Regions from separate parts of the Homo sapiens genome. Here all the other regions are linked to region 1. The links come from fine-mapping of genetic effects on gene expression. A gene starts in region 1. Each other region holds a variant in brackets. All regions are shown on one strand. Distances are from middle to middle.

Evidence for each region.
Region 2: its variant is fine-mapped to the expression of GREM2 in whole blood (TOPMed, PIP above 0.99). The same link has a PIP of 0.9 or more in blood mononuclear cells.
Region 3: its variant is fine-mapped to the expression of GREM2 in anterior cingulate cortex (GTEx, PIP 0.94).
Region 4: its variant is fine-mapped to the expression of GREM2 in whole blood (TOPMed, PIP 0.94).

What each region holds. Positions count from the first base shown.
Region 1 is chr1:240,608,653-240,616,295 of GRCh38, forward strand. It overlaps GREM2 (gremlin 2, DAN family BMP antagonist), which reads right to left and starts at 3,503. Exons shown (of 2, transcript NM_022469.4): 1 at 3,232-3,503.
Region 2 is chr1:240,685,500-240,693,142 of GRCh38, forward strand. LOC105373228 (a long non-coding RNA gene) reads right to left here. Exons shown (of 4, transcript XR_949320.2): 2 at 2,466-2,652; 3 at 1,135-1,276; 4 at 184-254. Among named protein-coding and RNA genes, the nearest start is that of GREM2, 77 kb to the left of the region's middle. RefSeq lists a silencer at 6,630-6,924. The variant A/G (reference allele first, on the strand shown) is at 3,280.
Region 3 is chr1:240,532,729-240,540,371 of GRCh38, forward strand. The region is part of intron 1 of GREM2 (gremlin 2, DAN family BMP antagonist); the gene reads right to left. Among named protein-coding and RNA genes, the nearest start is that of GREM2, 76 kb to the right of the region's middle. The variant A/G (reference allele first, on the strand shown) is at 3,786.
Region 4 is chr1:240,648,537-240,656,179 of GRCh38, forward strand. It overlaps the pseudogene RNU5F-8P and the pseudogene LOC100128958. Among named protein-coding and RNA genes, the nearest start is that of GREM2, 40 kb to the left of the region's middle. The variant G/T (reference allele first, on the strand shown) is at 4,340.

The DNA.
Region 1 (7,643 bases):
AAAGGGTAAAGCTAATTAAAAGAAAGGGAAATTGAGTTCACTGTGAAATATGCTGCTGCTTTTCTGATTTTGCCAGGTAGCACCAATTCTGGAGGCCAAAATAGAAACAAACCCTTCTGGATGGTGTGCCTTTACTAAGACTCTAGAGTTGGCTCTCCAAAGGGAAGAGGGCACTTCAAGTTGGAGGGAGATTTTTTAGCCATTTGGCGACCGGAGTCTTCCTCATGGTCAGGGGGAGGTATCAAATCACTTTTTCAGAGTTTGCATGCTGCCCTCTCCTGGCCTGTATAGACAGGAGTGTTACAGTACATCAAATGCATTTATTTTCCCCCCACACCTGTGTGGGATATACCTAAGAACACAAGAGAGTTTATTTAAAATATTCAGGATGTCTCATCAAAAATGTATACTTGAAGCTAATCAAAAATCTATATCTGAAGGTAATTAGAGGAAATACATTCATTTTCATTTTCCTTTGGCTCCAGGATTTATACTGAAGCATGTCAATCTTTATATCATGTCACTTTATACCCTTGTGCTTCCACCCGCTCACGTTCCATCCCCTTAACATCCATGTGGCTCTGGGACTCTGTTCTACAAATCAGTGCGCCAACACCGTCTGGGTCCCATCAATGTGCTGGCCACTTAAAGACATCTTTCCAACTGGAAGTGGTGGTGATGGGAAATCTGCTCAAGTCATTGGTCAGTGTTGAGTCTGAGGACCACATTTTAGCCTGACATGTGATCAAAATTAATTCTAGACATTATTAGGCCTATTATACCTAATATTATTAGAAACAAAAGAACTATCAAGAAGCAGCTAATCCAAGAAGAAGATGGCACCATAGGTCTAATTTTTAATTGAACACCTTGTCCTTCAAAACAATGTCTTGTGTGACCCATTTAAGCCGAGTGCTGGGCACGTTTTCCCTGGTTGAAATAATTCTTTTTTGTCCGTAGATATTTGAAGGACCCTGATACTGAGAACATGCCTGCAACCTGGCACGTTGCACAGGGGCAATTGCTGTAGCAACACTGAAGTACAAAAGTGGCTGAACTAATCTGTTGAGTGCCTGTGCCTCTGCAGTCTCTCAGTGTCTGCCCTTGACCCAGACAGGCCAATCCTCTCCATATCAATAAGAACTGAGAGTCTAATACCATTCCTTTGCATTAGAAAAAGAGATGTTTACTTTAAAGAGATTTAAAGGCATGTACCTTGTTTAAACTTTACCAAACTTATAACTCGAGGGTATGTAAAGCTCTGGCTGGCTCTACTAAGATTCATAGAGAATGAACTGTTGATTACCTCTCTCGGTGAAGAATGATAGCAAAAAACAATGAATAATCACAGCATTGTTTATATTTATCTTTGAAAAGCCATCAGTGTCTCCTAGTCTATACAAAGTGAATATAATCCGTCTCACACTCACAAAGTTGCTACCAACACACCCAACATTGCTTTAGAGTTAGAAAGATAAGACAGAAATAGGTCCCAACTTATTGCAGCTATTTTATTTATAAAAGATTGACAAATGCTCACAATCATACAAAACAACTCTTTACCAATAGAATGTAGTTGGGTCGATTAACTTATATTTATTTGCACAGATCAGTTCTTTACAGTTTCTTTCTGATGTAAAAGGAAAAAAAATTTATCTATAAAGTTAAAATGCCTTCTCCCAAATATAATATTCACTTGCCATGTCTATACTTTGACACGATTTCAAAAAGCACCCAGTTAAATCATTCAGATCAGTCGATGGGCAAAAACTATGAAGTTTTCCTGACTCTATGGTAGAGCTAAGCATGCATTTCCTTTAATGACAGAAAGAACATGTTCATCTGATAAGAAACAAAAAACAAACAAACAAAAAAAGGTCGATATAAATTCTCCACTGTGATATACAACACAAATACCTTTCTTATAACTTTCTTATCTTCCTTGGTCGGGCACATGTCTTGGGACAAAGGCTACCTTGAAAGCTAAGCACGGCTGAATGGTGAGTCGATTGCGAATTATCAGTGAATGGTTTGGATATGATCGACTAAGACTCCACTGGGAAGAGTGCTGTTTAGACGAAAGGTAAGGTATTTGATTGCCCCTGCACCTGCTGCAGAGCCATTCTCTGGCTGTACTGGAGTCCCAATCTGTTCCACTGCAGAAAAAGCGCTTTTCATAGGGATTCAGAGCCACATGAATACCAGCCAGCCCTTGAAGACTGCAAAGCAAGACCAATTTTTTAACTGACTTCTTGCAGTCCCCTCTGGCTTTTCCCAGGAAAGACTGAACTCATTAAGCAATGCTAATTTAATCACAAGTCATCAAGGGGTGGGGAGTTATATAACTATCTTTAAAATTTCAAATCAAACATGATAAAATCTCAGGAAATAGATTTTTTTAACAAAACCCACACCTCAAAATAAAAAAAAAAAAGAAATAGAAGTTTATGAGTTTTAGGATCAAATAAAATAAAATCAAACATCAATATTTTCTTACAACTATCACATCTACTAGATAGTTCCAATTCATGACTTTTTAATGTAGTAATATGTGAGATCCTGGAACTGAACGTGCCTGGCGTGCAGAATACAAATGCATTTTTAAACTCGTAAGACAATGTAGAAATAAGTCAGGTACACAGGAAGGATCACTGACAATCACGTTAAAAAATAACTACCTCCCTTCTCTCTTCTCCTTCAACCACAGCGTAGTGATAATAGTGATATTTCCCTCATGAGGCGGGTGCACCTTGGCCATATGCTTTAAAAAATCAAAACTCTGCCGAAGTCCGCTGTGGTTCCTATTCCTGTAGGGAGGATATTAACCTGGTAGGTAGGTGGGAGAGGTTCGTAGCCCGCTTTCTAACAATTGGATGGTGTTTGCCTCGCTATAGTCATGATTAGAATGGCGGTCACCAAGAGGTATTTATTGGTGGGATGACAACATATTGGTATTGACGTTATTTAAAAGAGAAAGAAAGAGCGATCACGGTCAAGTTTGAAGGTCCTTATGTTACACCCACGCATAATTCAATAGGTGAATAAACCTTGTGGCCCCCAGACACACGCCAACAGCTTGAATTACCCGGGGTGAAACCGGCGAGACGTCCACTCAGGGCTTTCGGTCCTGACCAGCCACGGAACAAACAACGTCAATTCATTCTAAGTGCCTGGTGAAGGTAGAAATCAGAAACCGTGTCTGTGTCACGTTAGTCGTGACAAGCTGCGTACCTGCAATGACGTGATGGAAGCCTCCTCCTCGGGTCCCTTCTCTCTCTCTCTCTCCCTCTCCCTCTGCCTTCTCTGAGTTCTCTAGTCCACAGCGGGGTCTAAGTTTGGTCTCCCGCCGCCGCTTTCAGTTCGACCGCAGCCAGACTGCAGCAGACGCCCATAAGAGAAGCGCGCCGGCTGAGGGTGCAGGAGAGGCGAGAGCGCGCCCCGCGCCGCGCGGTCCCAGGCTGGCTGCTCCTGCAGATGTGAAAGGAGCCCGGAGACTTAGCTCTGAATCCTCTCGGCGCTGCATGGGGATATTATCAGAGTCTGGGATTTCTATTGGCTCTGAACACCAAACAAATCACACCAGCCACCCCCCTTCTCTGTTTCACTCAGCGCTTGTTTCTCATCTAACCCACAAACATTGCAGCCACACCACACACTTCAGTCGCTTGCAATGTTTCTCTTTTCCTCCTTCCAGTCAGTGGATTTACAACCCTGTGGTCAGCTCTAACATTTTTTTTAGCAGACTTCCAATTCTAACCTTCTTGTTTATGTAGAGAAATTCTCCCTCCATCCCCTAAACCAGAAAAAAACAAAAAACAAAAAAAAAACACTCATTCCCTTCAGATCTTCTTCCTTTTGCTGATGGGTTTCCAATGTGAAGAATGTAGAAAGCCTGTGTGTGATATGTCTGACATTCTCATACACGTGCGCTTACACACACACACACACACACACACACACACACACCAGGCTCCTTTTGTTTGCAGTAACTGAGGCCAGTGAAATAAAAAGCAAGCTGAGCCTAATAACCTAAGTGAGAGCTTAACTAATAAAATCTTGAATGAATTCAGTGCAAAACACCCATTGCTTGAATTTGTTTTCTGTTCCAAATAGTACTTTGGTCATTATTATCCTGATTTTTGTTTATTGAATGCAGAGGTTTCTAATGCAAATCAGACTCTTCAACATCCAGAGAACATAAAACAATGACGCCAGACCAATTCTTGTGCTCCATCGGCTTGGTGCGTTATACCAGAAGCGTATTGTGACGCCTAAGTGCTTGCTCTTTTCATTATTTTTTGAACTTCTCACCACTGATCATCTCAGGACTGAGACTCCCTTAGTGTGATTCACCAGCCAAAGACGACTATTCAGACTCTGCTGATAGAGGTTCCTGGATGAAAATTTTTTATCTGTATGTGTCAATAGAGATAAACCTTTGGCCCCTTGGCAGGGAAAGGGCCCAAGAAAAATCTGAGATCTTACAAACTTGGCTGGGGAAATTCAGAATAAAATAAAGTTTCAGTGTGTCTTATAAAACAGACCCTCCCTTAGACTTTTCCCCAAAATCAATTTCACTGGTGCTTATGGAAATTTTAATGACAGTTATTCTTGACAAGAAGCCATTGCTTCTGAAATCTCTGAGCTCTGTTTTGATTTTTGACTTGAATTTTTTTTTTGCAGTGTTATCCCTTTTGTATGCTATTTGGTATTTGATATTCTAGTTCCAACTCAACTCACAGCACATTGGGTTGCAAATTCACAGGAAATAACAATTAGTTCTTGAAATATACTATCACCAAACAGACTACCTGCCTTCTTTCTTACGTGGGCACATTACAGGAATTGTGAAATGCAGCCTTATTCTCAGAATGGGCCTGCCTGAAATCAGCTGAAATTGACAAAGGAAATACAAAACAAAACCACGTTTAGCAGTTGGTTCCTGCTAACCACAGTCTAACCTCAAATGGCATATCCTTATTGCTTCAACAACTCCAGTTCATTCCCTTTCTTTAGGTAGGCAGCTAAAAACAAAATACTGTCATAAATCTTTGAAAGTGTAGAATGTATTTCTTCTAAAGATCTCAACAGTCTTCGAAAAAAAAAGGAGTTATAGGTATGATATTCCAGATTTTCCAGGTGGAGAAACAGAGTGGAGGAATGATAAAGTGACTTGCTGAAGGCAGACAGCAAATAGAGCTGGGAGAGTGGATGACTGCCCTGTTTGTTCATACAAACTGTTTGACTCAAAGGAAAGCAAAGGGTTAACACAGCTGACTCTCATTCCTGCCTGCCTTTGCACAGAAGAGCTAACAATTCATGAAATCATCTGTCCAACTTGGTAAATAGTCATTTATGTTATTTCAGAACGGGTCATGTTATTTTCAGATAAGTTACCAATAATTTGCCTTCGAATTGCCTTTCTAGAAAAGAGAGAAACAGTTACTGAGAAAACCAAGTAGATCATTGTATTTTGTGCTTGTTATTTTCAGGGCTCATTATAGCTCTTCATAGCACTGAAAAGACAGTGTAAGTGAAATCATGGGTGACTTAAAGTCACAGATCTATCTTAAACTTCATTTTAGATAATAATTCAAGCCCTCTGTCCTTCAGTTAATGAAGAGCAAAACTGGATGATTTAAAGGACATCTATACCCCATCAGTTGTGTGGTTAAGGGAAAATAAATCGTCAGTGTTTATTATTCTATATTTAGTCTTTTCGTCATTTTGCTACCTTTAAAAGAGTTTTTCAAAGACATTTCTTAAATCCTTTATAAATGACACAGACATCCGTAATAATAAAAACGCTTGCATCTCAGCATGCACAGCAGCGGACAGCCGGGCAGATTCATGACAGAACAATCATTTTATTTTCCACTTATTCAGCCACATCAGGATCATCCTGCTTAGTTCAGTGTGGCACTTTTTACAGGAGATATTCACAAATTGGCATGTATCCAAAGGAGTTGATAAGATGATGATTCTGAATATTATAATTTATAAGAGATGCAAGAGAGAATCAGGCATCTTGGAGTAGGAACTGAGGTGAAAATGATAACATTTTCAAACAGTAAAGGTAAAAGAGGAAATATGTTTATTATTCAGATAATGCTTCAAATGTATTGTCATTTTTATAAACATTTTCTTTCTTGATTTTTTTAAACAACTCTATGAGGAATGTAAGATAAATGCTACTAGGCTAATTTTAGAGATTAAAAGAGTTTGTATAGTAAAGTCACCCTGATGTAGTCACAGTTACGATGCCAGAGGATGGGAATAAGTTGAAGTGGACCCGAAACCCAGTGCTGTTCTGGAGAGAAAATAAGGGTAGGCAAAAATCAGGATAGCAAAAGACTTCTCAAAATTAAAGCTTTCGGAAATTGAAAGAATTTCCTGGCAAAGTGATGATTTGGAGATTTTGATATAGGTCAATGAAGTGGTCAAGAAAAGTACTCACAGTCATTTGCAGAGATTATGAAGGGATTGTTATAAAGGTCAGACTAAGTAACCTAGGGTTTACTTCAGCTCGAAATCATCTTTGATGCTATTATTGGCTTTTACTATATTACAGAATAATTTACAATTTTATTGAATAATTTTCATAGTATGCCATTAAATTTTTTAAAAGATTATGATTACGATCTAAGTATATTTCTGAACTATAGATGACCGCAGATGGTCTTTTACCCTTCTTTTGACATATCTGTGTGTTCTATGATGAATATGTATAATTTGTAATAAGAAAAAAAGTAAAAAAAAAAAAAAAAAGAAAAAGTAGAAGAGCTTATAATTCTTCCTCTACTATACAAAGATACAAGATTTCCATATGACTAGTTTGCCGAAGACTGACATTGCATTCCCAGTGTGATAAGCGTAAGATCACATTCTTGATCTTGTCTGTACCTATTCATGTGTTTTCTTTCTAGCCTAGGTTGGACGCCATTCTAATGCTAATGTTTTCCCCTTGGTTATCTCTTTATTTATCTTAATAGCTTCCCTTTAACTTATGGATTTATTGATAAATCCGTACGTGCTTGTTTTGTCCTTTTATAGCTATAATTATTTCTTAGATTATCATAGTTTACTTTTTAAATTGTTAAAGTGTTTTTGATGCACAAAGTTTGTAAATTCTTCAATTTACTGATTATTCAATATTTATTCCTCCACCATATAAGAAACCTTTATTTTCTAGAAAGTCATTAACTTTGTTTATTAATACTGTATGTTTACATCAAAACCTCAAAATGAAATCTATATTTATGATTCACTGATACATATGAATCTATGCTCTTGCGGTTCACAAATTTCAACTGTTCACATGTATTAAATAACATTTATCTCTCTTGTGTCATGGTGATTCTACCCAGAATATATGAGTGATTTATAAGAGTTTTATAGCAAAATATATAGCTCTCACTGTGTCGCAGAATAAACTCCTTGTCTATGAGAGTGCCATCTGTCATGTTTGTGTCACCCCAGTGGAGCAGAGAACACAACCCACAGATGAGCTGGGGAAATTAATAGGAAAGGGAATGACCATGTATTCAGCTCAATCCCTATATTTTCCCTTAAGACCCAGGGAGCAGGTGGTTGTGGGTTTTTTGATTCATTAGCCCATGCTTATTAGATGTCAGCAAGGCCTC
Region 2 (7,643 bases), 77 kb after region 1:
AAAGAATCTAATGAGCAGCTTACACCAAAATTTAAAGAGTTATTGTCAAATGGACACACTTCTTCAAATAAAAAGGATTATTTAATAAAATCAAAATAAGAAGAAAAATAAAATCTGACAAACCTTTCCACAAACTACTCCCATCCCTCCCCCGACAAAATTCTAGGCCCAGATTTTTTTACTCACCAATTCTTCTAACATTTAAGGAAGAATCTTCTCCAGGTAATAGAAAATGTGGGAACACTTGTCTTTTTCTATAGGGTAGTAAAGGTGAATAGACATGAGAAAGGTTTTGAAGGTGTTATTAATATTCTATGTCTTGATCTGGGGGGTGGTTTCACAGAGGCATTCACTTTGTAAAATTCACTGAACTCTGTATTGCACTTAGCATTTATGCACTTTGTGTGAGTTATATTTCAATAAAATTTTGCCAAGATATAAGTAATGCAGTGATAAAATTATATATAATATAATTTCATGTATATATACAGATAACATGATTATATATTATGTATACATATATACATGTAATATAATCTGTATATATGTGTGCATATATATAACATATAGCAACATATACTGTACTTACAGACGTAAAACATTATTTTAATATGTTTTTTAAATATTATATATACACTCATATATAATGTTCCTATAAACAGTAGCAGAGCCATTTTTTTTCTTATGCTACTTCAAATGATGTGATTTTTGTTCCCTTATATGACATCACTGCTAAATTAAGGGCCAGTCCCTAAATTTAAAAATATATATATTATAAAAATATATATAATATATATAAAATATGTATATAAAAATTATTTTTTTAGAAATAGAGACGAGGTCCTGCTATGTTGCCAAGGCTGGCCTCAAACTCCTGGTCTCAAGCGATCTTCCTACTCTGGCCTCCCAAAGGGCTGGGATTACAGGCGTGGGCCATGACACCCAGGCCAGTTCCTTAATTTGAAAGCACAATTCTTCCTATAGTCATTAGATAATCTGATTACTATCACACCTGTATAGTAACAAAGTATCCTCTAGAAATATTTTTTGATTATAGTCTGAACATAAAAATTTGATCCTATATTCTTAGACATAACTGAAATCGGTGATGAATGTGGATGCTATTTCACTTACCCGTGTAATCCGTGCCCTTGTGCAGATCAACTCAGGTGTTAGTAATGACTATTGTGTGGACAGGAGCTCCGAGATACGTGCTGGTAACAATTAATGTACAGGATTGTACCAAAAAAACAAGTCGTTCATGCTATAAACTTCACTGGAATACAAAAGAATTATAGGAATTGTCTCTTATCGTCAAACACATCACTGTCCTTTGAAATCAAGGGGTTCATTGTTTGATACCTGAATTGTTTATTCACCTGTATAAAAAGCAGGTCACAATTTTTTTTTGTAGTTTTGCCAAGCAACTGAGGGTCACTAAATTTCATAAGTACAGATCACCGCTGTGCTCTCTAAACAGCCTTTGTCCTTAGTTTTAACTCCACAAAATGTCAAGATAACAGACACTAGTCTTTTGGTCTCAGTTTTAATGTGAAATCTATGCCCACAAAATGCCACTCTCAAATTTGTGTTATTAGCTTTTCTGAATCTATTCACCAATCTACAAACGATAAACACTCAGACCTAGTTTCCTTTCTTGGGTCAAAAAGCATTCCCCAAGTACCATTTACATTGAAATCTGGAAATGTGGCTAAAAGTCTTTGTGTGTGTGTGTGTGTGTGTGTGTGTGTGTGACAGGTCTCGCTCTGTCACCCAGGCTGCAGTGCAGAGACCCTTTGAGGCTCACTATAGCCTCAAACTCCTGGGCTCAAGTGATCCTCAGCCTCCCAGTGGTCTTTGTAGACAGCCTGATGGAGTCTCATGGCACAGAAGATTAATTAAACGATGTCTTTTAATTTTAATCAATTTTTGCAATCCAAAAAAAGCCTCATTCGGCCAGGGTGAGGAAAGGATGACAGGATTGTTCAGCGGCGTTTCTACTTGACTTTGTTGTAAAGTCATTTAGGGTAAGGAAACTTGGAGAATCAAACAGCTGGTGTTAAATTGGCTAAGCATATCATTTTCCGAAACTCCTTTCTGATCTTCATTAAGGAAACCAATATATGATGGGGAACTCATTCATAAGAGAGACGAGTGTTCAAGTATTTTATATTTTCAAGGATTTGGAGGCTGATGCCAACACTAGTGCATTAATTGCCTGACATTCTGAGCTCAGGCCCACTACCTTTTTGTTCTGAGGTTTTGACTGATCTATATATTCTGGCTTTCAATAAAGGCCTGTCACAGCAGAAAAACAGAAAAGGGATGCTGAGTACGAAGTCAGTTATTAGCTAAGTGGTTCTTCAGGCTTTTGTTGTTTGCCATGAAATTTGCATCTTGCAAAAACTGGATCTGTGCTCTTGGCACAACGGATGTTTCATATTTGCCAAATAAAGTTTCAGTACCTTTGCCTCTGGTTCACTGACTTCCCGTCTGTGACGTGCACCTCTTCCTTTTTCTCTGAAGGACAGTAGTAAGTCACAGTGCTCTTCCTGTTCAGATTACCATCTTCAAGTGACTGGCACTCATTGGCTTCAGAAATGCTATTTTTTTTTCCTCCTGCTTCTGGAATGTGACCAGACAAGATCATTCCTATGGCAAAATATGATTGAGAAATAATATTTTAGAGGCTGGGAGATATTGTGTCATGCCACACCAGGTAACTGTCTTAAGTAAAAGACATAAGAAAGACACAATGAATGATATGATGCTTTTCAAGGATCTTTTTTTTTTTTTTTTTTTTTTGAGATGGAGTTTCACTCTTGTTGCCCAGGCTGGAGTGCAATGGCACAATCTCGGCTCACTACAACCTCCACCTCCCAGGTTCAAGCAATTCTCCTGCCTCAGCCTCCTTAGTAGCTGGGATTACAGTCATGCGCCACCACGCCCGGCTAGTCTGTATTTTTAGTAGAGACAGGGTTTCTCCATGTTGGTTAGGCTGGTCTTGAACTCCCTACCTCAGGTGATCCGCCCGCCTCAGCCTCCCAAAGTGCTGGGATTACAGGCATGAGCCATCGCGCCCAGTCTCAAAGATCTTAATGATTGAAACAAATATAACCAATAAGTAGAGATGCAAGAAAAATGTCCATGTGTTTACATGCCAGTTTACATTGAGGAGCATTAAGAATTCACCATTCTTGGTATGTCATTGTAATTTCGTACATATTTTATTTATCCAAATTTTTTCTTTGAGGTAGGATGGGAGGGAAATGATTCACC[A/G]TAACTACTATTTATTTAGAACACAGTTAATCACCTTCCCTCACCAATAACCTTGCCTCACACTACCTTCCCAAGGTTTGCAAAACTCATTACCAAACAAACCAAACAAAAAGATGAAAAACAAAACAAAACAAAGCCAGAAACTCTATTCTGTGTAAGAGTTATTAACCTGTCATACGTGCAAAATAATTATGAGTGAAATTTCATGAATGGAATGGAAAATCATGCATTTGTATTCGGGGGAAGAGGATGCATAGCATTTTCCAGATTCTCAAGGCAATTCAATGCTCCCAAAAGGTTAAAAGCCACTGCAATTGAAATTGCTTTTTCTTCAAACACCTCCAGTCTCCTTTTCCATGTAAAGTATTGAAGTTTTAGGCCTCTGCTGCTTGCCTACACTGCAATCATTTCTTTTTATTTTCTAAATTATCAAAATAAAGGGATCATGTTGTTCTACATTTCTCGTTTTTACTTTATCCTTGTCTATGTCTGGGTGACTTTCGGAAAAGCAGAAATCCGTGTCTGGCCTCTCATCTGACTCTTTTAAGGCTGGCAGAGCGGTGTCTGCCCATTCCAGTTGTTAACAGGATTTTTCTTTTTCTTAACTCTTAATCTGTTTCTGGGAAGCTTTTAAAATACATTTTCCCCCTTCTCTTTCAGATATCCTCAGCTTCCCTAGCTCAGGGGGATTCATGCAAATTGTGTATTCTCTGGGGGATGCATTGCTGGTAGATTCTGAAAACGTCTCAGCTTTTTTCCTCCCATTGTCAAATACAATGATAATTTCAGGCTTATCTTAAAGGAGGTTTTGTTTCCATAATTCACTTCAGTTGTGGAAGCAAAATATCCTTTAATGTAGAAAACATTAAATGTATAGAGAATTTGCTCTGCATCTCCAGAGAAGCTTTTAGGATGTCAGTAATTGGAATTGCTATATTCCATCTACTAAAGAAAGATCTAGTCTCCTTAATCTATCCCCGACTTTGATCACATGAGACCACAAAGCCACCTAGGTAGCCTACAGTCTGGCCATATTCGCCAAATGTATACTTGATTTGGCCAGATACCAGCCTAGGGCCACCCATGTTTTTCTCACCAGATCCCCTGTGGTGATGATTTGTCAACAGTCGGGCAGGAGGACAATGGACTGGGATAAAATTCAAACTTTGAAAGTAAGATTTTTCAAACTGTTTTAAAAACATTTTGAAAGACTACAGTGGAACATCTCTCGGTGACTGGAAATTTTTCTTTTCCTTTTTTTTTTTTTTTTTTGCCAATGGGTTCACATTTTGAATTGGCAAAAATTGGTATGATGAGTATGATTTCATAATTTATGTATTAGAGCAGATGGAGATTAATCATTTAGCTAATCCTGTTCATCTTCCCAATCAGTTACTGTTTGCTAGTGGGAAACCAGAGGCAGCCAAATGGCTCATCCCACCAATGAGGCAGAACAGTTGCTTAAGAGAACATTCTCGCTTACTCCCAAGTTTTGCTAAAACTTCAAGTGACTGTGAGCCCCTTAACTTTGCTCCACTTGAAAATACATTTGAGGCAGGGCACGGCGGCTCATGCCTGTAAACCCAGTGTTTTGGGTTGCTGAGGTAGGCAGATCCCTTGAGCCCAGGAATTTGAGACCAGCCTGAGACACATGGCGAAACCCTGCCTCTACTAAAAATACAAAAATTAGTTGGGTGTGGTGGCATGTGCCTGTGGTTCCAGCTACTTGGGAGGCTGAGATGGGAGGACTGCTTGAGCTCTTGAGCCCAAGAGGTCAAGGCTGCAGTGAGCCGTGAGCATGCCGCTGAACTCCAGCCTATGCAACACTGCGAGACCCTGTCTGAAAAAAAAAAAAAGAGAGAGAAGGGAAAAGAAAATACATGTGAAAGTTTTTCTCAAAACCAGTGTTCTTTCTATGAACGCAACATTTGGAAATCTATTGGCCAGGTTTTTGTTAAGATGATTGCCCTGTTTCTGAGAAAGGACAGCCAAAGATAGTCAAGGGTGATTGCATGCAAGTCTGAACTCCATGTCAACGAACCAGCTGGGAGCACGTAAAGCTTACAAATGCCGTCCAGTATTGAAGTTACTTTAATAATCTTGAACTCTGGAAGTTAAAGTGTTAGGACCTGTAGGCTGGGCACGGAGGCTCACACCTGTAATCCCAGCACTTTGGGAGGCTGAGGCGGGCGGATCACGAGGTCAGGAGATCGAGACCATCCTGGCTAACACAGTGAAACTCTACTAAAAATATAAAACTTTAGCCGGGCGTGGTGGCGGGCACCTGTAGTCCCAGCTACTTGGGAGGCTGAGGCAGGAGAATGGTGTGAACCCAGGAGGCGGAGCTTGCAGTGAGCTGAGATCCCACCACCGCACTCCAGCCTGGGCGACAAAGCGAGACTCCGTTTCAAAAAGAAAAAAGTGTTAGGACCTGTAATCCTAATTTCTTATAGGGCTGATTTCATGAAAAATATAAGCTTACATAACCCAGCTTTGTAATATTTGACCACAAAACTGAATGATCAGCATAGGTACAATTTGCTGGTTATGAAAAATAAACCAGGTTAACAATCTGTTGAATTATGGAAAACACAAAAGAACAAATTTACCTTTTAGGTTTTAGCACAAAGGAGAAAGAACACAAGTTATCTAATAACTCAAGAAGATAAGACCAGCTACCTCACCTCGCACCCTCTGTTCCTGTTAAGCCACTGGAAACCCAAAACTAATCAAATCCCCAAATCCCCACATCACTGACAGTGCTTATGGCTTACTGACTTCAACATAGATAAATGGCCCCATTAATGTCAGGGCGGTTACGTTTGTCTGAAGAATATACGTCTGTATTTTAAATTGCATTATCCAGTTTATCCATGGGATAAGAATTGTTTACCTTCACAAATTCCAGGCTTCTGAGCTGAACTAAACAGGGCAAGTTTAAAGGCAGGAGCTCAGAGCAGTTCATAGCCTTTTGACAGCTCTGATGTGGTCTGCCAAGCCTGAATTGGTAAAATCCAGGCTTATCTCTCAGCACAACGCAGTTCACCCTCAGGTCTTTCCTGCTACCTGCAGCCCCCGTGAAGCCCCTACAAAGCTGGAAGTTGCAAAGTGGATGGAATAATTCTGCAAAATATTGTTTGGTGTTGGATTAGCATTCACAGATGTGGGTCCAAGAAATTGCTCAACAGCCCACGGAGGCCAAGGAAGATCTGCCACGACATCGATACCACGCCTGACTAGGTCACTTCAGGCTTGAGTCCAGTTCAGTGTGTCCCGCCAAGCCCCAGCTTTTGTCTCCTCCTCTTGTTTCCAGTTTGCTCTGCTTCTGTGAAATGAGGTGTTTGCTCATCACTGGGCAGGGCAGAAAGGTAGAGACAGAACAAGAGATGGAGGACGGGGGACTCTTAACAAATCCACATCCATCTTTGCCTCCATTCAACCTGCCTTGTGCTGGCTTGAAAACAGTTGCTGACCAAGGTTTGGAAAATGCAGCAGCTGCTTGCTGCCATCTGCTGTACTTTCTGTTGCTAGCAAGCATGGGACCATGGCTGGCTGCAAAAGAGGAAAAAATGGAAAAGTGGGGGAAGCAAGAGACCGGCAGCCTCCTCTTTACCCAGGAAACCCCCATGATAATGCAGCTACGGATTCATGTCAGAAAAGCGGCCACCTTTCCCAGCGTGAATGAACCACAGTGATTTTTCAGGACGTAGAATATACTTTCCTTTACACTTACGTGATTATGTTTTCCATATTGTAACTATGGAGGGAAAATAAATATAGATTAGGCTCAATGGAATTCAAGTTGTCTGCTCACTTGAACTACTTCTTAATCTTGAACTACTTCTGGATAAACATTGGATCAAAATAGAGGGTAAAGAAATACTGGTGTGGCTGGGCATGGTGGCTCACACCTGTAATCCTAGCACTTTGGGAAGCTGAGGTGGGTGGATGACTTGAGGTCAGGAGTTCAAGACCAACCTTGCCAACATGGTGAAACCCCATCTCTACTAAAAATACAGAAAAATTAGCTGGGCGTGGCGGCGCACGCCTGTAATCCCAGCTACTCGGGAGGCTGAGGCACAGAAACCGCTTCAACCCGGGAGGCAGAGGTTGCAGATCACGCCACCGCACTTCAGCCTGGGTGACAGAGTGAGAATCTATCTCAAAAAAAAAAAAAAAAAATTACTGGTGTGTAAGATTCTAGGAGTGAGTCTCTAAGATATACATCTAAAGATGATCAAGACTTTCTAAAGAAACCATCACATGATTCTGCCTTCCTTCCAATAGCTCAATCTCTTTATTTTTGCTCATTATTAGACTCCTTAAGTGATCCTATTTCCTTTTGGTAAGCTAACTTCCAGATG
Region 3 (7,643 bases), 76 kb before region 1:
ACCATCACCATTTCATAGAGAAGAAATACTTAGAGAAGTTAAGTCTCTATCTAAATATAGTTAATTAGTAAATAGCCAAGATAGGAGTCAAACCCAGTTTATTTCCCAAAGTCATGCACAGAACCTGGGCACTTTACTGGCTATAGCATTCTGCTTTGAAGTGTACACTGTTTTGCTTCACACTCTTCATACTCTTCAAGTCATTTAAGTTTTCTGAGCTTTATTTATATTCATTATTCATTCAACCCGTAACAAGCAAGTCCTCATGTACAGCAGGTACTGTAATTGATATTGCGATACAGAGGGGACTATGATACAGAAACTACCCACAAAGAACTCAGCATTTTGTAGAGGAGTTGGACAGGAAAAGGAACACAATGTAGTCAGCATTATGAGATGTATGAGACAGGTATGCCTGAGGTGTGAAGAAGGGGGATCTGGGAGTAGAGACTGGGAAAATGAAAATCACTTCCTATGAGAATAATGAAAAGTGGAGGAATATCTGAATTGGCCCTTAAAGAACTAATAGAAATGAGCTAGCTGTGAAAAGGTTGGGAAAAGGAAAGGCATTCTAGCCAAAGAGAACAGATCAGTTTAGCGGTCTGTGAGGGCATTGCATGTTCTGAGAATTGAAAGTAGGTCTCTGTAGCTAAAGCACACAAGGCATGATAAATACTTGGAGCTGAATCTGGAAAACTCTACAGTTGAGAAGCCCTTGGTATCTCATGCTAATGTTATAGAACTCTATCCTGAAGAAACGAGGGAGTCCTTTGAGAATTTTAAGCATAATATATTTATGTAATAAGAAAGTCCCATCAGAAGCACTGAGGAGGCACAACTGGGACAAGGGGAGTAGGTGGCTCTGTGTAGAAGTAGGACAAAGTGATTGGCATCTAGCAGTACACACAGCCTCCCACAAAGTCAAAGAAAGAATCAACAATTGGGATAGAGGAGCAGTTGGATCTGAGAGATATTTGGAGGATGGGTGGGCAAGACAGAAAGGATTTTGGTGGTTGAACAGATATTGAGATACCATTGGCTGTGCCTCCAGGGTTTCTGATTTGGCTGATAGAATGGATGGTGACTGCTTCCATTATTGGGAAACTAGTCTACAGAAAGAGGGGACGATTGTGACGAGAGCCTCAATTCCATCAGGAGCATGTCATTTTTGAGTTGCCTGTGACGTTTAGTTCACATGGAAAAATGTTACTACTATTAAATATGTAAGGTAAGACCTGGTGCTACTTTTGGTTGATATGTATTTGTTGGAAAGGCAGAGTTGCAAACAGATAACTTGAATCAAACGTGGAAAATGCACCAAAATAGTTATGAATGGGCTAGTCCTGAAATTGAAATTAGCTTAACCTTATGGTGTTGAATAAGGAAGCAGGGACAAACCTGAGAAAGATCTTGAAGAAAGTGCAGATGATGGACAATTCAGGAAGAGAGGTGTGAGGCATCTCAGGGAGGAGGACAGCATGAGCAAAAAAATAGAGCATACAAAATGTGAGAAAAACAATCAGTTTTCACTGAAACATAAAAGGGAAGGCAGGGACAAGGTCATGGAGAAATCTACATATGTGCTACTCAATAGATTGGATTTTATGTCAATTATGAGGAACCCTGAAAGGGTTCTGCTCTAAGAGAGACATCACATCTGCAGTTAAGAGAGTGCAAAAGGCCGGGTGCAGTGGCTCACGCCTGTAATCCCAGCACTTTGGGAGGCTGAGGCGGGCAGATCACGAGGTCAGGAGATTGAGACCATCCTGGCTAACACGGTGAAACCCTGTCTCTACTAAAAATACAAAAAAAAATTAGCTGGGCATGGTGGCGGGCGCCTGTAGTCCCAGCTACTCCGGGAGGCTGAGGCAGGAGAATCACTTGAACCCAGGAAGTGGAGCTTGCAGTGAGCTGAGATCTTGCCACTGCACTCCAGCCTGGGCGACAGAGCGAGACTCCATCTCAAAAAAAAAAAAAAAAAAAAAATGCAATACTATGGAAGATGAACTGAAATGAGGAAAAGCTAAAATGCAGGAGACTAGTTAGGAGGCTACTGCAATCACCCTGGTAGGAAAAAGTGAGGGCCTGAACAAGGCATTGGTGTATGGGCGGGAAGAAGGGACAGAAACATGTTGAGGAAGCTAGAACCTTTGGGTTTCGAAAATTTGGTGACGCCAGATACTTAGCTACCAACTGAGGGAAGAAACACAGCAGGACGAGTGGGTCTGGAGAGGAAGGGAGAGATGATCTGTCTGTTTCTGTATGTTGATCATTGAGGTATATCTGAGTAGAGACATCTAGTAGTTATTATATAAATCTGAACTCCAAGAGAGGACTCTGTGTAAGATGATAGATTTGAGTCTATAACATAGAGCTATTAGTTAAATATAATTATAAAGACAATAATAATAAAATTATAGTTGTGAGCACTTAGTATAGGCATTGAGTAATACTTTACATTACTGTGTATGTTATATCCATTATACCCACGATAACAATCTGAGTTGATATGAACACTTCCCTTTACAGAGGTGATAACTAATACTTAAAGAGATTATGCAACTTATCCATAGTTGTGTTGTTAGTAAAAGTGAGTGGAGAGCTGAGCTTTGTTCAGGTTCTCAAAACCAGTTTTGTGTTTGTTTTTGTTTTTTAACTACAACATTTCTTTGAGTTTGTAAAGAAGAAAGATAGTACAAAGGAGAGATTGTGAAAAAAAATTTTAAAAAGCCAAGAATGACATCCTTGGTAAACCAATGTTTAAAGGACGAATGTGAGAAAGAAATATTGGCCAGGCACAGTGGCTCATGCCTGTAATCCCCACATTTTGGGAGGCCGAGGCAGGGGGATCACTTGAGGTCAGGAGTTTGAGACCAACCTGGCCAACTGGTGAAACCCTGTCTCTACTAAAAATACAAGAATTAGCCAGGTGTCACGGTGCATGCCTGTAATCCCAGTTACTCAGGAGGCTGAGGCAGGAGAATTGCTTGAACCTGGGAGGTGGAGGTTGCAGTGAGCCGAGATTGTGCCATTGCACTCCAGCCTAGATGATAAAGGGAGACTCCATCGCAAAAAAAAAAAAAAGAAAGAAAAAAGAGAAAGAAATATTTATACCAGATACCCTGAGTAAAAAGAGAGAAAGACAAGCCTAGTCAAGTCTCCCATGAAAACCAACAGAAAGACGATCCCAAGAAGTAGGGAATGAGCCAGTGTCAGCTGAGTCAAGTGGAGTAAGATAAAGACTGAAGTGAGCCCTCTGAGTTTGGGAACACGTAGGACCTGACTGCAAGCAGGTTTCACTGGAGCAGGTGTCACAGAAGCCAACTTGCAAGGAGCTGAAGACTGGTAAGACAAGAGGAACTGGAACCACAGTACCTTCAATTTCAAGAAATTTGATTAAGAAAAAAAGCCCTCAATTATGGCAGTTAGAAGGAAGGCAGCTCCAATGGAGATAATGTATTATTCATTCACTTACTTATTTGGATGGGATATATTTAAATATATTTTTAAAGCTAAGGACGAACACATAGCTGAAAGTGTGAGGTTTAAAACATATGAGTAAGGGAATATAACAAATCCTGAAGTAAGGTCTGATAATTAAATGGGAAGAAAGGGTCATGCAGCCAAGCACACAGGGGGATGCAGTGACCTTGAATTGGCCAATGGTTAATTTGTCTCTAACCCTAAAGAAAATGTGCAGGGATGGAAGGGTAAATTGGTATGAAGAGGGATAAGCAGTTGCTATTCATACCTGGGCAATTTGATTTTCTCAGTCCAAGAGGGGG[A/G]TTGGTAATTGTTCCTCGGATGGGGAAACATGACATGTGAAAAATATGGGTCAGGAGTTTAAGACAAAATGGCAGCGGGGGCTGTAGATCTGGAAGCCATCTGTAGAGTTTAAGACAAAATGGCAGCGGGGGCTGTAGATCTGGAAGCCATCTGTAGAGTTTAAGACAAAATGGCAGCGGGGGCTGTAGATCTGGAAGCCATCTGTAGAGTTTAAGACAAAATGGCAGTGGGGGCTGTAGATCTGGAAGCCATCGGTAGCTACGTGCATGGGGATAAGGTCTCTGATGCATAATGTGAGATTTAAAAGAGGCAAATGTTGGATCTTGAAGAAAACTGCTATTTGGGCTGAACAGAAGATAACAAACCTTCAAAGAAGACAGGGAGGTTTGGAAGGAGGAGTACCACAGAATCCAAGCAAAGCAAGAATACTAAGCAACTAAATTCTGACCAAAGTGAGATGCTGACATACTAAAGAAGATAAACTGGAATGACCAATTAATTCCTAAGACTTAGATACATTAGTGAAAGCACTTTTAGTTGTGCTGTAGTAAGATAAATTAAATACAGATTTTTTTCCCCAGAAGCCAGAATAGACCTGTAGCCTCCTTGCCTCCCTTCCTTTACCTTTAAAAATTTTAAACTTGAAATGGAAGCTATTTGAATATATTTAAACACTGTGAGCAAACAAATAACTAAATAAACAAAAGCAAAATATAGGGGAAATGTAAAAGTAGAGGAAGGAAAGAAAATGCTGGACAAAATTAGTTATCTTTCTTTGAGATAGAAAATAAAGAGAAAAATATAGTTAGTTGTGGAGGGAGATGAGTTTTAAGGAGCAAGGAATTCCTGCCTGGTAGCCTCTCTGTTCTCTGAAGTTGTCTACCCAGAGAACACAGAGATGGACACTTAAGAAGTGTAGTAGATGCAAAAAACAGCACTGACAAAAAAAGAGGGGGAAAGGAGTTGATGCCTAAAGAAACAACAAAAGGAGTTCAGGCCGGGCACGGTGGCTGTAATCCCAGCACTTTGGGAGGCCGAGGTGGGTGGATCACCTGAGGTCAAGAGATCAAGACCATCCTGGCCAACATGGTGAAACCCCATGTCTACTAAAAATACAAAAGTTAGCCGAGCATGGTGGCGCGTGCCTGTAATCCCAGCTACTCGGGAGGCTGAGGCAGGAGAATCACTTGAATCCAGGAGGCGGAGGTTGCAGTGAGCCGAGATGGCGCCACTGCACTCCAGCCTGGCAATATGGCAAGGCTCTGTCTCAAAAACAAACAAACAAACAAACAAAAACACTGAGTAAGCCCTGCAAAAAGTGAAGGTATATTACTCTTTTATACAAATATAATATATTAATCATACATACCATGCAAAATATCCATTATTTAAACAATAACTTTCATAATGTCCTGTAGAACCTTGCTTCAGATCTTGAACCCTGAAAATGATTGGCAGAATGCCATGCCCATTTAAAAAACCCGAGTTTTGCTTTATTAAAACTAAAGAAACACTGAAGCTCGTTAAATTTCATGTTTGAAACAATAGAATTCAAAGTAATGACAGTCAATAAATAGAGGAACAAGTCAAAGTAGGATTGTCTAGAAAGCAAAATTTCTTGACCACGCTGATCTTAAATTTAGTTACTCTTATTATCTATAAGCTAACCTAAAACGTTCAGGAGTTCAGGTTAGATGCACCCCTCAAATGCTATGACTGGTGGCTTTGTCTTGACTCACACTTTTTACCCTTTTTAAACTTTCTTCTTAGCTCCTTCGTGATTGATTGCTTCTCTAACAATGCCAACCCTTTCAGTAACCTGGGAAAAGGTTTAAAACACCATGGAATCATCCAGTGATTTCACCTGCCTGCATTTGTATTAAAGACATGTAAAGACTTTCTAGAGGCCAGGTGCGATGGCTCACGCCTGTAATCCCAGCACTTTGGCAAGTGGAGGTGGGTGAATCACTTGAGCTCAGGAGTTTGAGACCAGCCTGGGCAACATAGTGAGACCTTTGTCTCTCCAAAAAAAAATAATAATAATAATACAAAAATTAACCAGGCATGGTGGTGTGTGCCTATAGTCCCAGCGACTTGGGAGACTGAGGTGGGAGGATCACTTGAGTTCAGGAGGCGGAGGTTGCAGTGAGCCAAGATCGTGCCACTCACTACCCTCCAGCCTGGGCGACATAGCCAGATACTGTCAAAAACAAACAAACAAACAACAAAAAACTTTTTAGAACCATGTTTGGTAAACTGTATGTACTCGACTAATACCAATTATTTACAAAATATTAAATTGAGTGAAATACTACGTGTGGGTGTCTCTCCCAAAATGAATCAGAAACTTGGCACATTGGCTACAAATGCTTTGAAATGTCTCTCAAATGAACAATTTCTAGATATTGCATTTTAGAAATGAAATAACAGCATCAGATAATTGGCAGCCAAGTCATTTTCCCAAGTACTGATGCCAAGTACATGGCAGACATCCACCATGGGTTGATGTAGATCAAAAAGGGCTGAGACACCATCTCATGCTTATAGAATTTCAGAATTAGAGACATTAGGAAGGGGAAAGTCAGCATCATTTGCCATGTTAAAGCCAAGCCTTGTGCACTGAGCAACTTTTCCTCACTAGCCAGGCCCCCATCATTCCATTCTTACTTACCATCCCTTATGGATTTCTTATAAAAGCCCTACACATGCCAAATTGGTCAAAACCCTGCCTCGCTGCAGTTATAATGGCTGGCTTGTGGTCTTCCTGGTGGTGACAAGTCTCTTTGCTATGATGTGCCCAACCAGCCAGGATTTTATCCCCTACTCAGGATCCACTCCATGAGCTTGCATGAGTGACCCATCTAAAATTAAACAAAAGAGGAAAATGTGTACCTACTACTTTGAGATGAGAGGGGAGCCACACATCTCTTTCCCTTCCTGGACAGCCCCTTCCCAGAGCCCTAATTTTTCTTCTGTTATTAGATTTTACTATACCCTCTGATCATTCAGAACATCAGGCTTCTTAACAAAAGAGATTTCTGAGTTGAAATACAGTTTTTAAAATGCATAAGCATTTCTGGGACTTTGAAAGCCTCGAAATAACGTATCCAGGCTCTCTGGAACTCATAATCCATATACACATGAAGAAATGACTTGGAGCTAATAGTAGGTAGAAGGAGGAAAAGGGCAATTGACTCCTCATGTTCAACTCTGGGTAACACGGATGAAGTGGAGATTTTAAACTGCAATGTTATTGTAAATTTTCCAGTAATCTACATCTCTGAATTGCAAATACTGGAAACCAATTCTGCCTTCCTGCTTCACACTGACAGCAACACTTTGCTTGCCCACATCTGAGACCTTGTGGCTTTTGATTCATTCTGTTGTTGATGCCTCCTCTTTTGTTTTCTCAAAATGTAAATATTTGTTCTGTCTGCATTCTAATTGCTAGTCTTGGTGTCTTATTGAGTATGAGGGCTGCGGTAACTCAGATGCCTCAGGATCCCTTGCTATGTGCTGAGATTTTCTGTCTTATGACATTAGCTTGGCATAGCTGACAGCCACTCTGTTCCTATACCCCTGACTAAATTGCAGTTATGTCTTTAATTGAAACCTAGTATTATTTTATTCCTCTCTGCAGAGAGGAAACCCAGAACTATCATTCTGTACACACACCAAACCACAGGAGCCTGAGTGAGGGTCCGTAATGACAGAGCCTCCTACACAGCACATTTGCTAGCTTTCTACTAATTGCCCTAATTTTCTTTGTCTAGACTAACTTATTGCATTGAAGAGCTCCTTCTCCAAAAGGGGGCATAAAGGAACATCGTGAGTCCTTCAATTGCTGCCAAGTGAAG
Region 4 (7,643 bases), 40 kb after region 1:
CTCTCATACTCCAAACTGCCATCTATTTCTTTTACTTTCTTTCCTTTGCTTATTTGTATTCTCTTCTAATATGCAAGTCTTTGCCTGTAGCCCCACCTTTTTTATTTTGTTTGTTTTATTTTTAATATTTTATTAGTTTATATTTTATTTGAGACAAAGTCTCACTATGTTGCCCAGGCTTGTCTCAAACTCCTGAGCTCAAGCGATCCTCCCACCTTGGCCCCCTAAAGTGCTGTAACTATAAGTCAACTCACCAGACAGCCCCAACTTTATAGTCCTCTGTTATTGTGATTTCAGAGGCGAAATTGCCTCTTGTACAGCTCCAAACAAAAAATACAAGGGCAGGCCGGGTGCGGTGGCTCACGCCTGTAATCCCAGCACTTTGGGAGACTGAGGCGGGTGGATCACCTGAGGTCGGGAGTTCGAGAACAGCCTGACCAACATGGAGAAACCCTGTCTCACTAAAAATACAAAATTAGCCAGGCGTGGTGGCACATGCCTGTAATCCCAGCTACTCGGGAGGCTGAGGCAGGAGAATCGCTTGAACATGGGAGGCAGAGGTTGCAGTGAGCCAAGATTGTGGCATTGCACTCCAGCCTGGGCAACAAGAGCAAAACTTTGTCTCAAAAAAAAAAAAGAAAAAATACAAGGGTGGAGATCTGATTTCTGTGGCTTCAGTCACAGACCACCCTAGTTGAATCACATGACGATGGGAAAGGGGCATTTTGATTGGCCATCCCTGTGTCACATTCCTACTCTGTAAGCCATGAGAAAGCTTTGTGGATAGGCAGGTACAATAACCGCCAGCTTTCATTGCACCATGCTATGAGTTTTATTCTTTCATGAATTAATTCACTCTTTCACATATTCATTTCTTCAGTTTTTTTCTTTTGAAAAAGGGTCTCCTCTGTTGCCCAGGCTAGAGCACAGTGACGCAATATGGCTCACTGCAGCCTTGAACTCCCAGGGTGAAGGGATCCCCCCAATCAGCCTCCTGAATAGCTGGGGCCACAGGAGTGTGCCACCACGCTGGCTAATTTTTGTATTTTTTGTAGAGACAGGGTTTTGCCCTGTTGCCCAGGCCGGTCTCGGACTTTTCAGCTCCTGCCTTGTCCTCCCAAAAAGCTAGGATTACAGGTTTGAGCCGTTACATCCGGCCTGACTTTCATCTTATAGACAATGGAGAATTATTAAAGGATTTTTCATCTAGTAAGTAACAGAGATTGTAGTGGTCTCCAGGGTGCATTAGAATGGAGCCAAGTGACAACCATATAAAAAGTGACAAAGCCTGAGCCAAGGTAGGACAGAGAGGGAAGAGAGGAGGTGACAGATTGGGTACGTGAGAGGTAGGTCATCATATCATGAAATTACCCAATAGCTCTTTCGTCAGTGAAGGTCCCATGTATTGCGTAAGATTACTGCAGCCTTTGCTGAACTCCAAAATTTGACCTCTGCACTGAGTTGTTTTAGGATCCAAAACATTATGTAGCAAGGAATGGAAAGTGTTTTATACAAATACTTTTTTAAATGTCCATAAATGTCTAATGTCTAATGCAGTGTACAGATTCATCATATGTCAGCAAATTAGTGCTGACCTTGTAGCCACAACACCCATCTCCTATCCCCATGCCAGGAATAGGCACAATCCTGGCTGGACTTTACCCAGCAGCGTAAGCGTAAGCTGAAATTCACCACCCCTCGGTATACCCACAATCAAGGATTTTGAGTTGTACTTGAGATGAGGCCAATATGATGGTGGAATTGTTAGGGAAACAGGGACATAGGAGAGCCAGGGTGACATCATTTTCAAATCAATTCCATCTTAAAACTAGTAAGACGCATTCCTTGCCAGTCACGACCCACGGCCGTAAGATGTTTACCACCAAGGAAACAGCTTAATAACGCCTGCAAGGACAAACTCCTGTGACAACAAAATGCCCAGATGTCCCAATATTGCAAAACGATATGTGCTTTTAAGGTGACTATAGTCATGCTTTGATGTACTTACGCACTAAAATGCCAAGGATAACTTTCTTTAAATCAACAAAGTAATAAATGTCATTTTTTCGGCTCACCCGCATGTAGACACAGCTTAGCTTTTACATAGATAAGATCCCTATATAAGAAGAGTTTAAAACAAAGATGGTGCATTCCTCGTCTTGCTTTCTGAGGACATTCTCGCTCTGTAACTGAGTAGCTTTCAGTAAACTATCTCTTCTCACTGTACTCTGCAACTCACTTTGAATTCCTTCCTGCGAGAGATCCATGAACCCTCTCTTGAGGCCTGAATCTGGACCCTTTTTTCCGATTGAAATGTTTTCTCTAAACGTATGCATTTCCTTTATGAATGAAGAAATCCTTCCATAGTTTAAGCCTTAGGAAAGTGAATGTCTCTAAGACAGTTTCCTTCTGTTTTTATTCATGTCATTAGAGAATTACATGATAGGGAGGTGAAGGCTTTCTCCTGAGTTTTCTGCAAAAAGAAAAGTTTTGTTACCACTTGCAATGGTGAAAATCCCACAGTGAATGGGCACACAGTCCCACTAGCTATGTGACTGGGTGAGACACTTCACTGCTCCAGGTTACAAGCATCTGTTATGTAAAGTGAGCATTAGATCATTTCTGAGCAGGTTGACCATATAATTAACTTTCTAGAGTGAAAGTGGCTGCCTTTGAAATTACACCAAGACAAAAGGCATAAACTGGGACTATCCTGGAGAAACTGGAACATTTGGTCATCTCTCTCTAAGAAGCTTTGAAGCTCTAAAACTGTATGGTTCTCAGGTTCATTGTCTGCACCCAAATCCAACCCTTGAGATGGTCTTGATGTTATGAACTTCCCTTTGGGCAGGATATGCTTATTCTGTTTTGGGGAATAGTTCAACTTAACAGAAATGTCCATCTATCCCTTAGCTACAGCAGAGGCAAATGCTTAGACTTGGGTTGCTGCTGGGGAATAGTCAGCTCTGCCATGTCTTATCTGAGTGAAATCCAACTCCAGACATAAGCTTCTCCCACAAGGGTTGATATTCAGGTCCTGAGAGAGAATACTTTTTCTCCACAACTGGGGACCTGGCTGATCATGAGCCAGTTCTAATACTTTGTTGTTCTAGGAGTATGTTCGCCAGGCATGGTGACTCAAGCCTGCAGTCCCAGAACTTTGGGAGGCTGAGGTGGGAGGATTGCTTGAGCCCAGGAGTTTGAGACCAGCCCTACCAACACAGGGAGACCCTGTCTCGACAACAACAACAAACAAACAAAAAGTTATTTAAATACCAAAACTTTTTAAAAAAGTGTTTAAAAAGATTGTAGTGAAGACTGGTGCACATATATCATTGTCTTTCAATTGTGGCAATGACAATAACCATGATCCTTGCTATCAGTTTGGGTCTCATTGAAGGGATTACGGAAGTAGCCTATGAGCAGCTGTCTTTTTTACCTGCATATCGATGGCAGGAGTTGTAATTTTCAATTTAGAGCTAACCTATTTCACTGATTAATATGTTCATTCAGCAAATATTTAATGATTATAAACCATGCATCAAACATTGTGTGGGAGACCCAGAATGAAGTGGGAAATACAAGTGAAATAAGTGGTTAATTGGTGATTACAATACATTATAATTGGTGGAATCGAAATCTCAACAAAACACTAGAAGAACACATATTTTGTGAGATAGTTGATTTCACAAGATAGTTAACCATCTTGTCTTCCACTTCTACTATGCTTTACAACCCAGAGGAGTCGGATTAAGATTGAATTTCTTGTTGGTGGTACTGGATTGACATGCAATGTAGTCACACCAAAGTGACATCATATATGTATAAATCCCCTCTTGCTGGAAAGAATCTCAGTCTCATCCATATTTTGTATCCCTCCTCATGAATTTCATTTATTTTCCTTCTCTGTTTGTTCACACACACAGTCACACATGTGGTGTCTTTCTGGGACACATATTCATCCCTGCCTTCTTCACTGTCTCACACGCTCACTGTCCTGGGTACATTCACATCTCTATCACTCACTCTGTCGAAGTCTCTTCCACACTGAGTTTCTCACTCTTAAATACACGTGACCTCAAGTTTGTAATTTCCTACAGATGCTCTCTGTCCCGGGGGACAAATTCTCTCTCCTTTGAGCACAGGGCCATTCTCCAACAGTCTCACTTTCAAAGGCACACACCCACATCTGCAGGCACTCACGCTTTTGTTGACAGCCCCTCCCACACCTCAGGCGTCTCACTGGTGATCGGAGTAGGGACAGGAGACAGGATGGGTGGAGGAGATACCAGTAAGTCATCCGTCCTCCACCCACATTTTCTTTCTTAATTTGTTTTCT[G/T]GAATTTCTTTCTTCCTTTCTGGTAAGCAGGGAGAGAAATTGCTGAGTAGCATCGTAGGACTCTTGGCAAGTGTCGTTGTCGTGCTAAGGATGCATGAAGGGGAGAAGGCATCGCTTAGAGGGATATCACCGGAGGAGGCAGAGAAACATATCACTGTCCCCGAAGAGAAAGACCAGTCTCACTGAAGAGCTGCTCTTCTAAGAATTCTTACCACTGGGACATTTTGTTGACATAAGGCACTGTGTCTCTATGAAACAAAATGGGACTCTAGCAGAGAAAACATATCAAATTACTTGAAAGATTCTTGAGTATTGATTTATATCAGGGGTTGGCAAACATTCTCTAATGGGCCACATAGTAAATATTTTAAGCTTTGAAGGCCATATGATCTCTGCTGCAACTTCTCAACTTGGCCATTATAGGGTGAAAGTAGCCATAGACAATACATAAATCAATGTGTGTGGCTGTGTTCCAATAAAACTTTATTTATATGCTCATTCTTTAGAATGAATAAGTTTTTTGCCATTTACTAGAAGTTTCCATGGAGAGGAACAGTGTGAGTTGATAACCAAATTTTTTGAGGTCTTGCTTAGGCAGGGCTAATAAAAAGTTTTTTAAAAAAACTTTATTTAGGGCAGGCGCAGTGGCTCATGCCTGTAATCCCAGCACTTTGGGAGGCTGAGGCAGGTGGATCCCCTGAGGTCAGGAGTTCACGACCAGCCTGGCCAACATGGCGAAACCCTGTCTCTACTAAAAATACAAAACTTAGCCGGGTGTGGCGGCACATGCCTGTAATCCCAGCTACTTGGGGGGCTGAGGCAAGAGAATTGCTTGAACCTGGGAGGAGGAGATTACAGTGAGCCAAGATTGCTCTACTGTACTCCAGCCTGTGTAACAGAGCAAGACTCTGTCTCAAAAAAAAACAAAACAAAACAAAACAAAAAAAAACAACTTTATTTATAAAAACAGGCAATGGGCTGAATTTGAACCATGGCTCTAATTTGCAGACTCCCGATCTATGTAAATGACATCATGTTTTGCTCTATTTTTTTCTTTTTTTGTGATTATGATTTAACTTGAAAACGACTAGATAACTTTTTCATCAAATTTGGAAGATTTATTTATAATGGTCAGACATAAAAAACTGGATATATACTTTGAGAAAAAATTCCCTTTTGGTGAGCCATGATGAAAGATAAGAGAGATAATTGTCTGACTGGTTCACCCGACACCTGTCATGGCCGCCTCCGAGGGCCGGGGAAGAATGAGTGCCAGGGTTCTGCTGTGGGCTGCCAGGGACACCTTGTGTAACATACCCAGGAGCTCTTTAGGGTCCAGGGAGGCGTAGGCGCCAGTGACAACCAGGACATTTCAGGAGACAGGCTGACATGCCCAGGGATGTGGTGAACGTGGTGTTTGTAGACCTGTCAGGCTGGCGGATCCAGTGAGCTGCAGAGTCGGAGGACAATATTCTCCACCTGACCCAATGCCATGGGGTGAACCTGGAAGGTGCCTGTGAAGCCTTCCTGGCATGCTCCACCTGCCATGTGCATGTGAGCGAAGACCTGGACCTTCTGCCTCCTCCCGAAGAGAGGGAAGACAGCATGCTAGACATGGCCTCCCTCCTCCAGGAGAACTCCCTGCTGGGCTGGCAGATCGTGCTGATGCTGGAGCTGGAAGGGGCAGAATTCAGTCTGCCCTAGAACGCCAGGAACTTCTACGTGGACTGCCACATCCCCAGGCCCCACTGACATGGACAGCCGGAACTTCCCGGATTGTCATGGCCTCAGGGCCAAGACTGAAGGAACAGCCAAGTGTCAGCCGAGCCCAGCTCAGAGCACGTACAGTCCTGAGAGAGACAGGAAGCCTCCAAGAAGGACAAAGTCCCCTGCTTGAGAGAGATCCCATGTCCAAGCTCTGGTGGGGACAGGGCCCCTAGTGGGGTGGTCTTCCCCAAACCCCTGAGAATAGAGTGTGAGTAGGGTAGAGTCAGATTGGAGCTGCAGTAAAACTATGTCATGGGCCTAAAAAAAAAAAAGAAAGAGAGAGAGAGAGATTATTTTCTAGAGTATGTAGTGACTGTATCACACAACAGGAACAGATAAACAGTTTATTCAGTTGTGAGCCATAGCTGGATTTTCATCAGCATCAGGCTGCCGCTTCTTAGGTAGGCAACTCTCTGTAGGATGCTCCTGGTGTAAAAGAATATAATGTACCATGGGAACGAGCCCCAGGACAGAGGAGTTGGGATGTTGGGAGTGGGTGAGACATTGCCAGTGTGCAAAGCAAGATTGAGGAGCAACTGCGGGTCTACTTCTGACTCCAGCAATCGATGGTCCAACTAAGGTTTTTAATTTTTTTTCTGCTCTGGGAAAATTTCATCTGAAAGTATCTGCTTCTTGAGCCAACTAGCTGTAGGGTACACAGATGGACACTAGAGAACAAATGCACTAGAGATACACAATATAGGTAGTTTCAGATTTGCATGTTGTTCCACCCTTCATTAACTTTATTTTGCTCTTGAAATGCTATTTAAGTTTGGTAACCATTTCTTTTTCCTTTTATTGTTTCTTTTTTTGTTTTTTTGAGACGGAGTCTTGCTCTGTCACCCAGGCTGGAGTACAGTGGCACAATCTCGTCTCACTGCAAGCTCAGCCTCCCAGGTTCACGCCATTCTCTTGCTTCAGCCTCCCAAGTAGCTGGTACTGCAGGCGCCCACCACCACGCTCGGCTAATTTTTTGTATTTTTAGTAGAGACAGGGTTTCACCATGTGAGCCAGGATGGTCTCCATTTCCTGACCTCATGATCCGCCCACCTCAGCCTCCCAAAGTGCTGGGATTACAGGCGTGAGCCACTGCGCCCGGCCAAGTTTGGTAACCATTTCTAAATAATAGAATAGAGTGAAGCTCTTTCAATGAATCGGGTAGCTATATGCATCATGAGATATTTAAACAATATGTTGTTAAATAAATGAGAAAAGCAGATTGCACAGAAGCCCTTATAGGAAAGTCTCATATATGTGTGTGTCTGTGTGTACATACTTAGACACACATATGCATTTGCCTAGAAGAAAGTTCATAGAAATACTATACGAATTTTGAACAGTGATCATTTCTGGGCAGCATGGGACTACCAAGGAACTCTACTTTTTCCTTACCCATTTTTCTTTCTCTCTCTTTTCTCTTCCCCTACAGGAACAAGTATTAGAATTATAATTCAAAAGGGCAATGAGGATTTTTCCATTTAAAATATTTATGAAAAATTCAGTAGTTATGACTTCAATTCCAAAAGGAGGAATTATC